Homo sapiens: one gene and its partners. The protein of the gene in region 3 purifies or fractionates together with the protein of the main gene of each other region. This does not show direct contact. Each region holds a gene or a part of one and is shown on either strand. Other genes may lie near its edges. The genes, in order: PTTG1IP, CDK11B, EPHX1 and RIOK2.

What was found.
Region 1: the proteins of EPHX1 (region 3) and PTTG1IP fractionate together in Homo sapiens (co-fractionation; one large-scale study listed by BioGRID). This does not show direct contact.
Region 2: the proteins of EPHX1 (region 3) and CDK11B fractionate together in Homo sapiens (co-fractionation; one large-scale study listed by BioGRID). This does not show direct contact.
Region 4: the proteins of EPHX1 (region 3) and RIOK2 fractionate together in Homo sapiens (co-fractionation; one large-scale study listed by BioGRID). This does not show direct contact.

Annotation. Positions count from the first base shown.
Region 1 is NC_000021.9:44,859,569-44,864,279, reverse strand, and holds part of PTTG1IP (pituitary tumor-transforming gene 1 protein-interacting protein isoform 1 precursor), read left to right. Parts: exon of another isoform or gene 1-312; intron 313-410; exon of another isoform or gene 411-487; intron 488-3,008; coding exon 3,009-3,117; intron 3,118-4,711. UniProt on the Homo sapiens protein: May facilitate PTTG1 nuclear translocation.
Region 2 is NC_000001.11:1,642,005-1,646,715, forward strand, and holds part of CDK11B (cyclin-dependent kinase 11B), read right to left. Parts: intron 3,286-4,711; coding exon of another isoform or gene 3,259-3,285; coding exon 3,122-3,258; intron 505-3,121; coding exon 382-504; coding exon of another isoform or gene 343-381; intron 1-342. UniProt on the Homo sapiens protein: Plays multiple roles in cell cycle progression, cytokinesis and apoptosis. Involved in pre-mRNA splicing in a kinase activity-dependent manner. Isoform 7 may act as a negative regulator of normal cell cycle progression.
Region 3 is NC_000001.11:225,815,752-225,820,462, reverse strand, and holds part of EPHX1 (epoxide hydrolase 1), read right to left. Parts: intron 1-4,711. UniProt on the Homo sapiens protein: Biotransformation enzyme that catalyzes the hydrolysis of arene and aliphatic epoxides to less reactive and more water soluble dihydrodiols by the trans addition of water.
Region 4 is NC_000005.10:97,163,308-97,167,458, reverse strand, and holds part of RIOK2 (serine/threonine-protein kinase RIO2), read left to right. Parts: coding exon of another isoform or gene 1-20; exon of another isoform or gene 21-713; intron 714-2,311; coding exon 2,312-2,408; intron 2,409-4,151. UniProt on the Homo sapiens protein: Serine/threonine-protein kinase involved in the final steps of cytoplasmic maturation of the 40S ribosomal subunit. Involved in export of the 40S pre-ribosome particles (pre-40S) from the nucleus to the cytoplasm.

The DNA of each region.
Region 1 (4,711 bases), on a different chromosome or scaffold from region 3:
CCAAGTCTCCTCGCAGCGCTATGAAATCAGCACGGGAAACCTGAGGGAAGGCCCACGGCAGCGGGAAGTGGTTAGGCAGAAAACAGCATCCTGTGGGGCCTTTTTCTTAGGATTCCTGATCTCGCCCACCCCTTGCCCCTTCCAGTCAGGAGTTTACCAGGTTTTGAGAACTGCAGGGCCAGAGGCTTCCTTTCCCCGGCAATGAGGTTTCATGATATGAGGAGGCCGGGAAAGATGTATTCGATGATTTCTATTCTAAGGCATGAGCCATGTTCTTAAAAACTCTTCTTCCTCCACGAGACCGTAGCGTAGGTTTGAGGAGGCCGGGAAAGATGTATTCGATGATTTCTATTCTAAGGCATGAGCCATGTTCTTAAAAACTCTTCTTCCTCCACGAGACCGTAGCGTAGGTTCGAGACACACCCTGTCAGTTTGTGGGACTTAAGTGGATACTTGCATTTGCTGATTAAAAATTGAAAGACGCTGTTTCTGTGGTTTCAGATCTTGACATTGGTGATGTTGAACCTGCTCTAATGCGCCTGGTCCTGGTGCATTTTCTAGATGGTGCTTCTTTTTAGTCTCTGGATTTTTCTATTGGAAGTCATTTCAGCTTTAAACATAGCTCACTATTGTATGTGGCTTTGTAGCCTAGAGTGCGTTTTTGCCATAGTACCCTGTGTAACCCTCACCACCCTGGGCAGGGTGTGGTGATGACAGCCATCTCGTGGATGAGGCGGCTGAGGGACTTGCCCAGGTCATTGTGGATGGGGCCAGTCCAGAAGGGCTGAAGGCCTGACTCCAGTTCTGAACCCAGACAGGGCGGTGAAGAGGGCCGCTTGCCCTACAGTAGCTCCAGGCGTGTGTGGGTGTGCTCTTGGGCACACAGGAGGTTTCTGGAAGGAGGTGTCAGTGCCTGGGAGGTCTCAAGAGGACCTGCGTGTTGGAGCAGTGGCTATGGTGGGCTGTGTCCACGCTCCTGAGGCCGTGGCGGGCTGTGTGTCTCTGTGTTGCCGAGGCCGTGGCGGGCTGTGTCTCTGCTGCTGAGGCCGTGGTGGGCTGTGTCTCTGCTGCTGAGGCCGTGGTGGGCTGTGTCTCTGCTGCTGAGGCCGTGGTGGGCTGTGTCTCTGCTGCTGAGGCCGTGGTGGGCTGTGTCTCTGTGCTGCTGAGGCCGTGGCGGGCTGTGTGTCTCTGTGTTGCCGAGGCCGTGGCGGGCTGTGTGTCTGTGCTGCTGCCTGAGCTGCTTGCTATGTGCATATTACTTCATCGATCAGAAAAGCAGCACAACCACCAGAGAACACCGTATCCTCCCAGTGCAGTCCTGTGGCTCATGGTACCACTGTCATGGAAAAATGGAAAATCAGACATTTACAACTTGAGCCACTTGAAAAGGGAGGATTAGCCAAAAATCGTTAATTGCAAGCAAAACCCCTGAAATGGAAGATACTCCCAAATGACCAGAATAAACAGGGTTTAACTGTTAATTGTTACATTATGCTGGAAACCACTTAAACACGACACTAAGGTGGTCACTGTATAAGTAGCCCTGGGAAAGAAGGCCCAGGGGACATTGTAATTAATATTTTTTTGTAATAGACTTTTGCCCTAACCTGGGCCAAAAACGCCATGACTTTCTATCCTATTAAAAAGTCAGTAACACTGTTAATGTGGAGATTGGGAGTAACAGGCAGTCTGGACTTGGGTCTGGACTTGGGCTGGCGCATGAGGTGCTGCCGAACGGCAGTTCTTTTTTTTTTCCTTTTGAGACGGAGTTTCACTCTTGTTGCCCAGGCTGGAGTGCAATGGTGCGATCTCGGCTCACCGCAACCTGCGCCTCCTGGGCTCAAGCGATTCTCCTGCCTCAGCCTCTGGAGTAGCTGGGATTACAGGCATGTGCCACCACGCCCGGCTTATTTTGTATTTTTAACAAAGATGGGGTTTCTCCATGTTGGTCAGGCTGATCCCGAACTTCTGACCTCAGGTGATCCGCCCTCCTGGCCTCCCAAAGTGCTGGGATTACAGGCGTGAGCCACCGTGCCTGACCCGAACAGCAGTTCTTTCACCCCTTCCTGTGCCATCTGCCTGCGTGCTAGGCTGTCCCCTGTCACGCTCAGTGCCTGGCTCACAGACCGCTTTCGGGCCTCGTTGTGTACTGCTGTGGCATGGGCTGGGCCCAGCTCTGGGCTCTTACACACACACACACGGGTGTGATGGTGTTGTCTCCACACCACTGCGGCCTCACACCTGACGTTCAAGGGGCTCAGACAAGAGCGTCTATGAGGTTCTCTCCAGCTGTCAGTTTAGGGCGGGCTGAGCCGTAGTTGCATCATCTTTCAAGCTGTGCGACTTAGTGCAGTTGTGAAGGTCAGAGGTAGGAAGCATGGTCCTTGCTACAGATGGTGACCATGCTCACCCAAGTCCATTCAACACAAACTCAGTGAGTGCCTGTGATGGGCCAGGCTGTGTCCTGTGTTCTTGGGAGACTTCAGCCAGTGAAGTGCACAGGTGCCCGGCGTGTGGGGAGGAGAGGTCTACGGAAGCAAACCTCACAGGAGGTGAGGAGGAGGGGGTGGAGGCGGCTGGTTGTGTCCAGTCTGTTGATCGAGGCAGGGCCCATCCAGTCAGTGGGGAGCCACACAGATGTGGGGAGAGTGCTCCAGGCAGAACCGGCAGGCTGAGCTGAGGCTGAGAGCATGAGGTGGGGTTGGCAGCACTCAGGAGGCTGCCAACACAGAGGCCCCGTGGCCTCAGCAGGGTGAGTTGTGGAAGAGGCCTGAGTGACGCGGGCCTTGGATGAGTCCGTGGAGAGCTGACAGGGCTGCTGGCCGCTGTGCTGGGTGTGGACCGAAGGGCGCTGAGGGTGAAGGCAGAGATGAGGCGTTGAGGGGGAGGTTGAGCCTTTACAGCCATCCACAGAGCGATGGCAGCACTGGCGGGCTGTGGGCAGAGCCTGGACAGTTCTTTGGTTTTTCTGTTGTTTCTAATGCTTGCTTAATGTTGGTCTCTTTCAGTGTCTTTGGTGCAACACTAACAAGGCTTGTCTGGACTACCCAGTTACAAGCGTCTTGCCACCGGCTTCCCTTTGTAAATTGAGCTCTGCACGCTGGGGAGTTTGTTGGGGTAAGTCATTGTTTTCATTTGCTGCTTGCAAAATCGATGCTTCTTTGAAAATAGTAGTATGGGCCGGGCGCGGTGGCTCACGTCTGTAATCCCAGCACTTTGGGAGGCGGAGGCGGGTGGATCAAGAGGTCAGGAGATTGAGACCATCCTGGCTAACATGGTGAAGCCCCGTCTCTATTAAAAATACAAAAATTAGGTGGGCGTGGTGGCATGCACTTGTAATCCCAGCTACTTGGGAGGCTGAGACAGGAGAATTGCTTGAACCCGGGAGGCGGAGTTTGCAGTGAGCCGAGATCGTGCCACTGCACTCCAGCCTGGCGACAGAGCGAGACTGTCTCAAAAAAAAAAGAAAATAGTATTATGTGCTCAGTTAGCAGAAGTTGCTAGAAAATGTGCTGCCAGTAGCTCTGTGACTCCCAGGGAGAGGTTGGGAAGCCAGGGGTGATCTGCTGACCGGGAAAGCAGCCCTGGGGAACCTGGAGGACCTCCTTCAAGGTGGTCAGCCCCAGCACTGAGCTCTATCTCACCACGTTACAGAAGGTGTGGGGAAAAGGGTGAGTTTGAAGGCAACGTGTTTGACTTCTCTGCTCAGTATGTTTTGTTCATGTGTCACCCCTGAAACTCACCTGTGAATTCCCCTAGAATCTCCAGTTTTCCCAGCTTAAGAATCCCTGCTTGCGTAGACAGCCCTCTTTTTTTGTGTGCGTATCTTTGTATATTTGATTTTGGAGGCGTTTTTAAATTAAGGAAATCAGCTCTTGTGAGATTCAAGTTGTTTTCTAGTTTGCCTTTATTTATTTATTTATTTATTTTTGAGACGGGCTGGAGTGCAATGGCACTATCTTGGCTCACTGCAAGCTCCGCCTCCCAGGTTCACGCCATTCTCCTGCCTCAGCCTCCTGAGTAGCTGGGACTACAGGTGCCCGCCACCACGTCCGGCTAATTTCTTGTATTTTTTAGTAGAGACGGGGTTTCACTGTGTTAGCCAGGATGGTCTCGATCTCCTGACCTCATGATCTGCCCACCTCAGCCTCCCAAAGTGCTGGGATTACAGGCGTGAGCCACTGCGCCCAGCCCCGTAGTTTGCCTTTTAAATCAGTTTGTGGTGTGTTTTGTAACCTAGAACTCATTATTATGTAGTTGAATTTATTAATCTTTTAGGCTTCAGGTTTTGGGGTAATACATAGGGTTCCTAAACTTTGTAAAGAAGCAATATTTTCTTAAGGTGTTTTGATGATTCTTTTTGTTTATTTGCATCTTGGATCCCTCTGCAACTTACGTCTTACTTACCACTCTTCTAATTGATTTCCATTTCAAAATCTATCAGCCTCCATCTGAAACAACTTGTTGCTGGTGTTGAGGCCCTAGAGAATTCAAAAGTTTGTGTGGTGGTGGTGGTTGTAGTGTGGGATGTCTGGCAGGGGGTGGTGGTGGTGTGTGTGCACCTTCATGTGTGATGTGTGTACTGTGTGTGATGCATGTGTGTTTGTGAACTCATCCCTTCCATGGAACTTCTCTTAATGACCACTCTGAAGACACAGCTCCTGGACCTGGGGAGCCTTGCCCTTTGGAACACCTGTTCTGGAGGTGTTTT
Region 2 (4,711 bases), about 220 Mb from region 3:
ATGAGATAAACCATAAAGGTGAATTTGGGGAAATGTTTTTAAACAAACAAGCTACCACCACCCCAAAACTAGTGCCTTTCACGTAACGATTAACTTTGCTTGGTCGGAAACCAGCTCATCCAGAGACGCTGGAAGCCACTTCTCTAACGGGGCCAGTGGCGAATGTCCCAGCGGATAAACACACGTCCTGTGTCCTGGCCGCACACAGACACTCACGGTCCCTCTCACGACACGAGAGGACTTCAGCCAGCACATCTCTCACTTTCTTCTGAAGCGGTTACTTAGCTGGGCTTTAAATGAATCCTACACACTTATGCCAAACATCCCCCAGAAAAGACTCACACTGTGCTGGCTTCTGCGCAGGCGCCGGCCTGGCCTCACCTGGCTTCCGGCCGTCTCCCAACTCGAACCGCTCCCGCGGCGGCCGAGGCGGGCTGCGACTCCAGTGGCTGGCTTTCACTTTGTCGCTGTAGTCCTCTCTCATCGTTCGGTGATGTGCAGACACTGGCGCGCAGGGCAGAGAGGGAGATGGCACTAGCAGCACTGCCTTCCTCAAAAGGCCCCACCCGGCACAGCTGCCTCGTCTCCCACACCCGCACCTGGCAGACACACCCACAGCGTGCACAGGGTGCTGACAGCATCGGGGTCAGAGGCCAGAGGTCTCCCAGGAAGCCCAGGGAGAAAAAGCTCCAACCTGGAGGCCGTGAGCCCGAGGACCCAGGTGGACCTTCTAGACTGATCTTCACTGGTCAAAAAGGAAGGGGCGGGAGAAGATTCTGGAAAGATGGAGTAGGAAGCACTGGGAATCAGTCTCCCCACCGAGACAACACTTGCATCACAGGATCAGGCCTGTGCAACTACTGAGGTGCTCTGGAGTCTACTGAAGGTTTGCAACTTCAGGGGGAATCTTGGAGAGTAAACTGTGATTCATTAATCAACGTCACCGCTTCGCACATTAGTGGCTCCCACCTCACTCCCCGCTGGCAGGCAGCAGCCTGCATGCAGCTCGCCGGACCCAGGTGGGCAGACGGACACACACACCCGAGGTCAGTGTGATGACTGCGTGTCCCACCCCAGAGGCATGAAGAGGCAGCAGCCACGGCCACCCCCAAGCTGAAGGTACTTCCAGGGCATGAGCACCACGTCCCCCGTTGCCCCCTTCATTTCTCTCTATTCCCCCTTTAGGAGGCAGACACTTCAGGACAAGAACATTAAAAACATCTGTATTGACGGGAACGTTAAAAAGTGGCTGCACGTGACCAGGAAAAGGCTCAGGCTCAGAAAAGACCCGTGAAGACCCTGAGTTTCCACAACAGGCCGACCCCACAGACACAGCCCAGCACAACCAAAACAACAAGTGCACACCCTTGAGTGGGGACCAGGAAGAATCACATCATGAGAATCAAATGTCCATTTTTTTGACTAAGAAAAACACAAGAGAAACAAAGAAATAGGACAGTATGTCCCATTCAGAGGGGAAAAAAAGAAGCCAACAGACACGGTTCCTGAAAATCACCTGACGGTAGATGTCCCAAAGACTTTAGGGAACTGTCTTAACCTTCAGTTCCTCAGAGAACGAAAGGAAGATGTGGAGAAAGTCAAGAAAATGACGCGTGAACACGACGGAAATATCAACAGAGACAGAAGATCCAACAAGAAACCAGAGAGAAATTCCAGAGCTAATAAGTACATGCTCACAATAGACACTAAAAAGTAAATATTCACAACAGAAACTCACAGGCAGATGTGAGCAGGCAGAAGAAATAATCGGTGAGCCTGAAGACAATAAAATCACATCGTCTGAGGAAAAGAAAGCAGAAGAGACTGAAGAAAAGGGAGCAGTGCTGAGCGGCCTCGGGGACCCCAACAGATCTGTGGGAGCCCAGGAGGGAGGAGAGGAGCAGAGAGGGTATCTGAAGAATTCCTCAAAACCCCCACATTGGATGAAAACCGTAAATATAAACATTAGAGAGGCTCAGTGAACTCCAGGTAGAATGAAGTCAAGAGGCCCACAGGAAAACCCATTATTAAACAGTTGAAAGCCTAAGGCAAAGAGAATCTTCAAAGCATCCAAGGGATCCTCAATCAGGTCATCAGATTAAAGCATCCAAGGGATCCTCTATAAGATCATCAGATTTCTCATCAGAAACTTTGGAGGCCAGAAGACAATGGGCTGAAATAGTCCAAGTGAAAAGGAAAAACTGTCAGCTAGGCATGAGGGTTCCTTGAGCCCAGGAATTCAAGACCAGCCTGGGCAATACAGGGACACCTTGTTTCTACTGAAAAATGAGCCAGGTGTGGTGGCACACGCTACGCCTGTAGGTCCCAGCTACGCGGGAGGCTGAGGTGGGAAGATCACTTGTGCCCAGGAGTTCGAGGTTGCAGTGAGCTATGATCGCTCCACTGCACTCCAGCCTGGGCAACAGAAGAAGACTCTGTCTCAAAACAACAACAACAAAATTGTCAACCAAGAACCACGTATCCAGCAAACTTTCCTTCAAAGATGAGGGAGAAATGAGGATATTCTCAGATAAACAAAAGCAGAGGGAGTTCATTACTACTAGACCTAGACCTGCCTTGAAGAATAAGCTCCAGGGAGTTGTGTGGGGTGTAAGGAAAGGACGCGAGACAGAAACCGGAAGCTGGGTGAAGAAATAAAGATCTCCATTAAGGTGAGGACGTGGGTGACTATAAAAGCTCGTACTGGCCGGCCGCGGTGGCTCACGCCTGTAATCGCAGCACTTTGGGAGGCCGAGGTGGGTGGATCACGAGGCCAAGAGATCAAGAGACTATTCTGGCTAACACGGTGAAACCCTGTCTCTACTAAAAATATAAAAAAATAGCTGAACATGGTGGCGGGTGCCTGTAATCCCTGCTACTCCGGAGGCTGAGGCAGGAGGATCACTTGAACCCGGGAGGCAGAGGGTGCAGTGAGCCGAGATCGCGCCACCGCACTCCAGCCTGGGGGACAAGAGCAAAACTCTGCCTCCAAAAAAAAAAAAAAGGCAGGGGCGAAAAGCAAGCACCGGAACCAAGCGCCCGCCTGTGACAGCAAGTGCCCAGCACCAGGGGGCAGCAGACACGCGTCCCGCCGAGCACAGCTGCCCACCGCGCCGCCTACCTTCCCTGCGGGCCTCCCGCTCCTTGCGCCGCTCCTCTGCCCGCCGCTCGCGCTCCTTCTGCTCCCGCTGCTCCTTCTGCTGCTCCCGCATCTTGCGCTCCCGCTCCCGCTTCCTTTCTAACTGCTCCAAGCGGTCCCTGAAGAGGCACACGCCATCATTCCCCCTAAACAGAAGCTTGCTTATCGCGTTTTTGTCCACATTTGTAAACTGGCTTTCTACGTAATTCAATCCGTGAAGTTTTTTTTTCATTTTTTTATTTTATTTTCTTTGAGACGGAGTCTTCATCTGTCCCCCAGGCTGGAGTGCGGTGGCGCGATCTCGGCTCACTGCAACCTCCGCCTCCCGGGTTCGAGCGATTCTCCTGCCTCAGCCTCCCGAGTAGCTGGGATTACAGGCGTGCGCCCTGTACTCCCAGCTAATTTTTGTATTTTTAGTAGAGACGAGGGTTTCACCATGTTAGCCAGGATGGTCTCAATCTCCTGACCTCGTGATCCGCCTGCCTCCGCTTTTCAAAGTGCTGGGTTTACAGGCCCGAGCCACCGTGCCCAGCTGCCATTTCCAATTCTAATTAATAAATGATCCATTTCTTTCCATTCGATCGGTGTTTGCTTCATGGATTTTGGGCTCTGTGGTTAGATGCATTCACACGTATCATTGCTGTATCTTCCTGCTGTATTGGCCTGTTTCTGGCTGTGAAGTCCTTGCTCCTTCTTGTTTCTAGCTTTTTTTTGAGACAGGGTCTTGGTTTGTCACCCAGGCTGGAGTGCAGTGGCGCAATCTCGGCTCACTGCAACCTCCATCTCACGAGTTCAAGTGATTCTCATACCTGAGCCTCCCGAGTAGCTGGGATTACAGGTGTGCGCCACCACACCCAGGTGATTTTTGTAGAGACAGGGTTTCACCATGTTGGCCAGGCTGGTTTCTAATATTTCTTAACATCTGTTTTGTCTGGTATGAGTACAGCCATTCAAGCTCTCCTATGACAGCTGATGTTTGTACGCTGCGTCTTTTCCTGTTCTCTAGCAGACAGCATACAGTTAGATCTTGTTTTTCTATCTGATAATCTGCCCTGTCTGTTTGGGGCACAGAGACCTTTCACATGTCATATAATTACACGTACAGTTGGATTTACTTTCCTTGCTTTGTTGTGTCTTTTTTATTCTTCCCTTTTTGATTTTAAATTACATATGTTTAGCATACCATTTTAATTTATTTGTACTTTTTAAAACACTAAGAAAACAACTTTCTTAGTGGTTGCTCTAGGGATCACCGTATGCCTCATGATACTAGCTCAAGTCCAGTACAATATAAAACTGTTGTAACACAGCTTTATTCCCTGTCTTCTTTGTGCAGTCCATTTATGCCACATACCATGACAACAGTGTAATTATTTTATACAATCGTAGTTCCAGTAAAACCTAAGATGTGAGGAGAGATAGTTACAGGATATTGACGTCAACCTACACTTGCTATCTGCAGTGCCTGTCCTTCCTTCCTGAGGATTCAAGTTACCGTCTGGTGTCATTTCTATTCAACTTGAAGGTCTTCCTTTAGTATTTCCTTTAAGGCAGGTTTCGCCAACAATGAAT
Region 3 (4,711 bases):
AAATCGTGTTTACAATTCAGATTACCCTTCTGTAAATTACATGCTGAAAAGAGTGAGCTAAGAAAATATACTTGGGGACAGGCGTGGTGGCTCATGCTTGTAATCCCAGCACTTTGGAGGCCAAGGTGGGCAGATCACCTGAGGTCAGGAGTTCAAGACCAGCCTGGCCAACATGGTGAAACTCCGTCTCTACTAAAAATACAAAAATTAGCCGGGCATGCCTGTAATCCCAGCTACTCAGGAGGCTGAGGCAGGGAGAATTGCTTGAACCCAGGAGGCGGAGGTTGCAGTGAGCCAAGATCACACCACTGCACTCCAGCCTGGGGAACACAGCAAGACTCTGTCTCAAAAAAACAAAAAAAAGAAAGAAAGAAAATATACTTGGGAATGTGAGGATTTTGTGGTTGAGTGAAGAAAGGTGGCCCAGACAGGAGATTACTCAGAACTCAAAGGTTCACCGCAGCTGTCCTTGATGAGCTGGTGGCTGCGGCAAATACGCCATCAGATTGGGATGTTGAGGCAGACTGCTAGCAATGTTCTCTCCTTCTTCCTTAGCAAAGGATTTTTAATTTTAGTTGGAGAAGACCAGCCAAACACTTGACATTTCTTGGCCCCCTGGCAGCTAAGTATGACAGAGTGATTAAGTGCGGACAAAGAGTTATAAATGTATTAGAGCAGAGCCACCTGGGGCCCAGACAGTACCTTGTGTCAAAATTTTCTCCAGTGCATCTGAAATCGCACTGTGATCCTGTCCCCCTAAACTTTGTCTTCTCTTGGTGTTCCCTCCCTCAGTAACTGACATTACCCGCCCTGCTACTGCCAAGCCAAAAACCCAGGCAACGTCCTTGAAACCCCTCTCCTTCACTCCGCCACAGATATCAGTAAGTTCTGGCAGCTGAACTTCCAAAGTACATCTCAAATCCATCTCCAACCCAGCCCAGGTTCCTGTGGCTCTCCCCTGGACTACTACCCTGCCCGGTCCACTCACATCTGCTCTACCCCTTCCAACACAATGGCCACTCTGAAGCCACAGCAATCTTTTTAAAACATTTTTTTTTTTTTTAGATGGAGTCTCTCTCTGTCCCCAGGCTGGAGTGCAGTGGCACGATCTCGGCTCACTGCAACCTCCGCCCTGGTTCAAGCAAGTCTCCTGCCTCAGTCTCCTGAGTAGCGGGGACTACAGGCGCATGCCACCATGCCCAGATAATTTTTGTATTTTTTTTTTTTTTTTTTTTTGAGACGGAGTCTCGCTCTGTCGCCCAGGCTGGAGTGCAGTGGCGCAATCTCGGCTCACTGCAAGCTCCGCCTCCCGGGTTCACGCCATTCTCCTGCCTCAGCCTCCCAAGTAGCTGGGACTACAGGCGCCCGCCACTACGCCCGGCTAATTTTTTGTATTTTTAGCAGAGATGGGGTTTCACCATATTGGCCAGGATGGTCTCAATCTCCTGACCTCGTGATCCGCCCGCCTCCGCCTCCCAAAGTGCTGGGATTACAGGCGTGAGCCACCATACAAACCTTTTTTTTTTTTTTTTTTTTAATGGAGACAGGTTCTCACTATATTGCCCAGGCTGGTCTCAAACTCCTGGGCTCAAGTGATCCTCCTGCTTTAGCCTCCCAAATAGCTGGATTACAGGCATGAGCCAGGCCAGAGTGATCTTTTGGAAATGCAAATCTGATCATGTATATCCCATCCCCTGCGAAACCCTTAAAGAGCTTCCCATTGTCCTTGGGTTAGTGTGGCCTTCAAGGCCTGTGTGATCTCACCACTCCCCTAGCCCCTCAGAGTGCTACTGGTATCAATATTATGGAGAAACAGTTTACTTGAAAGCTAAGTGAGAGTTTTAGGGCTGGGATCTCACGCTGCCCCCCGATCTTTCAGTTTTGTGCTCACCATGCTGTCTTACTGTGGGGCTTTATGAAGGCGAATCCCTCTGTCGAAAAGCTATTCCCTCCCCTTCCCACCTCCCTAACTTCTATCCACCTTTCAGATTTCAGACTGACTGTCCCTCCTCTGGGTAGCCTCTCCTGACCTATCCCAGCAAGGCAGATCTCTCAGTCCTAGCCTTCGTCGAGCTCACATTTGTCAGGGTGATTATGTGACTGACAGCTGGACGGAAGCTCCTGTAGGCCACTGACCATGTCTGCTTTGGCTCCCATCTGGACTCTCAGTGCCTGGCATTCTAGTAGAAGCTTAATTATTTGTTGAATGAATGAATGAATTTAAAAATTCTTTGAATGAGAGCATAGAAAATTAATCAGAACTTTTGAACAAGAAGAGCTGAATTCCCCTTGAGGAATAATAAATATAACCTACTTAGCCTAGTTGGTAGAGACAGACCATAAGATGCAGGAAGAGGGCTGAGTAGGTGGCATGAGGCACTATAACGCCCCCTGACCCCAAAGAAGACTGGAGAACCAGTATCCTAGGCGCACTACAAATATCAGGGTTTTGGGTCTAAAAAGATGGGGTCAGACTCAGATCCGGCCACACAAAGTAAAGGGCAGGTCTACCGCCTGCCCAAAGACTCCCCTCCCCCAACCCAAGCAAGCAGTCAGAACCTCACCACAAGAAAGTGCTCCTAAAATCGCAGTAAAGTGCTAGCCGGCCATGACTCAGCACTTGCCATGTGCCCGGCCTTGGCTAAGTGCATTGCAGGGCAGAATGCCCAAGTATTTTTCCAGAACAAAGGCCATGAGGTGGACCCAGCCCTGCGACAGTTGGGCAGGCCTGGCTCTGACTGTGTTTCTCTAATAGTGACTGAGACTCACAGCAGCGTGAAAAGCCAGTGCTTCTCCTGGGGGAAGTCTGCCACTTTGGGGAGGAAAGTGTGGGGGCAGAGAGGGTAAGGGAAAAACTATGGCATGACCTGCCCCTCAGATGCCAGGCCAGAGAGGTAGGTGGGCTTGGAGGGTCTGCTGCTTCTGCAGGCCTGGTCCCAAGCCTGCCCCCATACTGCCCTCCCCAGCACCCCAGCCTCATCACTCCTCCCTGGGGAAGGCGAAGGGAACATCCAGTGGAAAGGGAAAAACGGATGGCTTCCCTCCCATTCCTGGCCTGCCTGCCAAGCGGACGCAGGATGGGAGCCTGGGAGCGTTCCTGCTGTGAACTCCCTGTCAGCAGCTACCCAAGCCTTGGGGCTCCCAGGGGCTTCCCAAAAGCCATCCTGAAGCTCCCAGCCCCACTCCCTTGGCTGGCCCAAGAGTGACGGAGGCAAACCCTGGGGGGAACTCCCAGCTTCTCCCTCAGCCATTGTCCCTGAACCCCAGGGACCCCTGGAGACTCAGGATGGAAGAGGCCGGATGCAGGCAAGCTGGGATTGTGCACCAGGCCAATGGCCGTGTTTATCTCTGTGCAAGCGCCGGAGCCAAGCCCTGGGAAAACAGCTTAGAGCCAGAAACCAAGGGAAAGGAAAAATGCAGTTTACAAGCAGGAAAAAAAAAGCTGGGGGAGAGTAAAAGAGCAGTAAAAAGTGTCAGGAGACAGCCTTCTTGGGGGCAGGAGTGCTGTTCTGGGGCATATCGCCCTCTGTGTGGGAGGGAATTCCCTCCACCTCCATGCTATCTACATGTCTGGAGAGATAGAAAGAAAACAATTTGGGATTGGCACTGGGATGCCAATGTGGTTGAGGGAGCCCCGAGCCAGCCCGCGGGCAGTTAGGCCCTCACTGCCTGCTTTGCTGCCTGGCCCTGCTGCCTGCCAGCCATGTAGCCTCAGGTCAGTGACTCCACTTCTCCAGGCCTCCGTGGCCCCATCTGCTGTGGAGGGTCTGGAGAGGGGAAGGGGAAGGCCACGCGGGTGGGCTGGCCAAATCCTGTGCACCTTCGGAGAGGGGACGGCTACTTCCACACTCTTTAAAGGCCACACAAACTTTAAGTTACAGAACTCAAGAAGACCGAGAGATGCCCCACATGCTGCAGGGCTCATGAGCTCTTGGCCTGGAGTTTCATTTGAGGTCCCATTCCATCTCACATTCTGCCAATTAAAATTAGAGCTGTTGAGTTGCTTCCATTGGTTCTAAATTACCAGAGAAAAAACTCAAGCAGAACCCAGTTCACCACCTATAAAGAAAAAGCATTGCCCTCTATGCAATTTCAGTCCTTGACATTCTCTTTTTTTAATCTTTTAAAATTAAAAAAAGTTAGAATAACTTGTTTTTTCTTTTAATTTTAAAGACAGAGCCTTGCTTTATTGCCCAGGCTGGAGTGCAATGGTGCAATCTCAGCTCACTGCAGCCTCGACCTCCCAGATTCAAGCAATTCTCATGCCTCAGCCTCCTGAGTAGCTGGGATTACAGGCACCTGCCACCACCATGCCCGGCTGATTTTTGTATTTTTAGTAGGAAAGGGGTTTCGCCATGTTGGCCAGGCTGGTCTCAAACTCCTGTTAAGCGATCCGCCTGCTTTGGCCTCCCAAAGTGCCGGGATTACAGGCATGAGCCACCATGCCGGGCCAGTCCTTGGCATTCTCTACTTGAGTGGAGAGAGGCTCCTATTCCAGGGGATAATAGGAGCAGATCATATAACACACTTACCGGAGTTCCTTCCCACCATTAACCACACTCTGCACCTCCCCCTTCTCCCCAAGGTGTCTTTTCCTCAACAATGTGCTCCACGATCTGGAAGCTTCCTTGCAGTGTGTAACAGGAGAGCACTGAAAGCCGGGCCTCATGGAGGAACCTGAGCCTGCCGTCTCATCTAGCAGAGCAGCAAG
Region 4 (4,151 bases), on a different chromosome or scaffold from region 3:
TTCTGTCGATTGCTTTTTAACTTTAGTCTTGAGACTGATACTTTGTTAGATTCTAGTAAAAGAATGTTTTTTTCAAATGATGTGACAAAATTGTATTCTGCCACCTTGATGTATAAAATGAAAGCCAAATAATTTTTTGTTGTTAAAAACTCAAAATAGCTTCCTTTTCAATTGACCTGATTCTAGGCAGCCTATTGACTAAATTTCAAGTAATTCTGCCTTAAAATACAAACTGATGGCTGGGCACAGTGGCTCGCTCATGCCTGTAATCTCAGCACTTCTGGGAGGCCAAGGCAGGCAAATCACCTGAGGTCAGGAGTTTGAGACCAGCCAGGCCAACATGGCAAAACCCTGTCTCTACTAAAAATATAAAAATTAACCGGGCATGGTGGCCTGTGCTTGTAATCCCAGCTACTTGGGAGACTGAGGCAGGAGAATCACTTGAACCTGGGAGGCAGAGGTTGCAGTAAGCCAAAGATCGTACCACTGCACTCCAGCCTGGGTGACGAGCAAAAAACTCCGTCTCAAAAATATATATATATATACAAACTGATGATTTTAAAATTATTGCAGGTCTCTGGATACATTGATCAGGTTTTAGATGGATGAGTTATTCCTCATATATTTTCCTAATTACACATCTGATGTGTGTTTGAGTTATGTAAAGGCATGTAAATATTAAAACATGCAATAAATGTACTTTCTATATGAAACATCTGCAGTGAATTTTCTCTAGTACCTTGAGCCTTCTATCCTTTGTTCATGTGTAGTTAAAATTATCTAATGATATTATGTTTTCTTTTAATAATTTTTTTTTGTAAATATTAATCAGGCTCAGCTTAGATTAGGAAAAGTTCTAAAACTTAATTTTTGGATTTGGGATTGCTTATTCAGAATCAAATTGTAGTTAAATGAAATATTGGTTTTATTTATTTCAAAATAGTAATATGACAATTAAAATTAGTTCAGCAATACATTTATTAAACATTTTTCAGTACATGTTTGGGCTTATATCTTAAGCCTACCTTTATCTTTAAAGTTTTATTCCTGAAGCAAAACATGAGAATTTTGTTCCTTTTTCATATAGCTGTGTATCTGTGTCACAGGGCTACTGCCATTTAAATAATAAACTTGGAAAATTAAATCAGAAGCTTAAAAGGAAAAGAGGGGTGACAGAGGCTCAGGATTTTGAGTAAGTGATTGTATTAGACTGGATTCTTCAAAGAAACAGAATAAATAGGAGATTTATTTTAAGGAATTAGCCCATGGGGTTATGGAGGCTGAGAAGTCCCAGGATCTGTAGTCAACAAGCTAGAGACCAAGGAGAGCCCATGGTACAGTTCCAGTCCAAATCCAAAGAGCTAAGAACCAGAAGAGACAATAGCATAAGTTCCAGTCCACATCCAAAGAAAGGAGAGGACCCATGTCCCAGTTCAAAGACAGTTCTCTCTTACTTTGCCTTTTTGTTCTCATCAGGCCTTCAATGGATTGGATGAGGTCCACCCACACTGGGGAGGGCAATCTGCTATACTCAGTTTATTGATTCAGAAACGCCCTCAAAGACACACCCAAGTTAATGTTTAACCAAATATATGGCACCCTGAGGCCCAGTCAAGTTAACATATAAAATTAACCATCACAGTGATAGAAGAAAATCTATATAGGATTAAATGGTCTTTTAAACTCAGAATGGGAACAATAATTTTGTTCCCACTCTGGATACATGCTGGGCAAAACTTCCATTCAAAGTAAAAGCAGAACAGCAGATGTTGCTGAAAAATATTAACTGTTAGGAGTTAATATCGTCCGAGTTTTTATACATTGCATATATTGAAACTTTGAGCCATGTGAAAAACATTAGTCTCTAGGTTGCAGATTTTCCTACCCTAGTGGAGCTGACTATAATGAGTACTGTCTGTTTCCATTATATCTTCTGTTTGTGAAGGTGGAAAGAGTCTCAAAAATTTAGATAGGGAGAGACAGATTTATATAGTTCAGTGAAAGAAGAGGAGAGGATTATTAGAAAAGGGAAGATGAATTGTGGGGAGGTGATAAATTTCAATGGCTTAAGCATTCTACTGTTTTTAAATTTTGATAGTGACTAACAAAATGCTGGAAAATGAAAATTGTTAATGTATAGAACTTAACAGTAGGTAGTTTTATCTTCACAGAAATTTTAAAATATAATGATCTTTCTGAAGTATTTTATGTCTTCAGTTTTGCTGCATGCAAAAAATAATATAAATTAATCAAATGGGATTCATTACATTATACAAATTAACTAGATAAATTGTGGGTTTTTTAATTTTAGAGATGAAGAAAATGTGGGAGCTATGAATCAGTATAGAACAAGAACTCTGAGTATCACTTCTTCAGGCAGTGCTGTAAGCTGTTCAACAATTCCTCCAGTAAGTAGTCATTCAACATGTACTGAATGTTTATTACATCACTACTGTGATCTGATTGCCTTGTCTCATTAAACAATAATGTATGCCTTTCAGGTACAGACTTCTGTTGATTGCTTTTTGACTTGTCTTGAAACCAGTACTTTCTTTGATTTTAATAAATGAATGTTGCTCAAAGGATGTGGTAGAGTTGTGTCCTGCCACCATTATGTGTAAAATGAAGGCCAAATGACTTTTTGTTGGTAAAACTCAAAACACCTTCTTTTTCAATTGTCCTGATTTTAGGCAGCCTGTTGACTAAATTTCAAGTAATTTTTTCTTAGAATACAAACTGATGAGTTTCAAAAAATTAATGTAGGTCACTTGATAAATTGATCAGGTTTGAGGTGGATGAGTCATTCTTCATATGAGCTGAAGATTAATGAGCTTGGTCACTGTGAGGATTATAAGGTGTGTAAGCCTCAGACACTTGGACGTACATGTTAATGGTATAAAATTTTGTTGTTGTTGTTTGTTTTTGTTTTTGTTTTTTTTTTGAGATGGAGTTTTGCTCTTGTCATCCAGGCCGGAGGTCATCCAGGCTAGAGTGCAGTGGCATGATCTCAGCCCACTGCAACCTCCGCCTCCTGGGTTCAAGCAATTCTCCTGCCTCAGCTTCCCGAGTAGCTTGGATTACAGGCGCCTACCACCATGGCTGGCTAATTTTTGTATTTTTAGTAGAGACAAGGTTTCACCATGTTGGCCAGGCTGGTCTCGAACTCCTGACCTCAGGTGATCCACCCACCTCAGCCTCCCAAAGTGCTGGGATTTCAGGCGTGAGCCACTGCGCCCAGCCATTTGTACTTGGATATAAGTACAAATTTGGCCGGGCATAGTGGCTCAGACCTGTGATCCCAGCACTTTGGGGGCCAAGGTGGAAGGATCGCTTGAGCCCAAGAGTTTCAGGCCAGCCTGGGCAACATAGCAAGACCCCTGTCTACAAAAAATTTAAAAGTTAGCCAGGTGTAGTGGTATACACCTGTATTCCCAGCTACTCAGGAGACTGAGGCAGAAAGATCACTCAAGCCCAGGAGGTTGCAGCCACCGTGAACTGTGTTCCTGCCACTGCACTCCAACCTGGGCAACACAGCAAGACCCTGTCTCAAAAAAAAAAAGAAGACCCTTGTTCCTGGCTTTGCAGAGTTTTGCAGCTATCTTCTTTTTTAGGAGAAAAGTTGAATGATACAAGGTTATATACAGTTATTAAATAACAGACTGTAGTGCTTCAGAGAAAGAAAAGGTCATTGTGAACTGAGTATTTCACATTTCTTATTCATCTTGTAAGTCATGTGACTTGCACAGTGTATCTTAACTGATAAGTAACTTGAATTTATGATCAAAAGACATATGAAGACTTTTCCATGGGTGATTGCTACCATCAGGTCAATTCTACAGCTGAAACTGTGAAGGCATTCTTGGATATATTCAGCAATACTGAATGCTTTCAAAAATAATTTTCTATACAAAATCTACTCTAAAAGCCTACTTTTAACCTAAAAAGCAGAGGAACAAGCAGTTTCATCTTGTTTTTTCCATCAGTTTTCATGATGGACACTAGGTGGCACTATGGTAATTTTTTAAAAATTCTGCCTATACACTATATTTTTTGCTATATAATCTGTATTTCTGTTTGGAATTTAATTTCTCCTATATAACAGTTTCTATATAGTACTGTCAGTGTTTGGAATCTTAAAATTCATGGTGTCA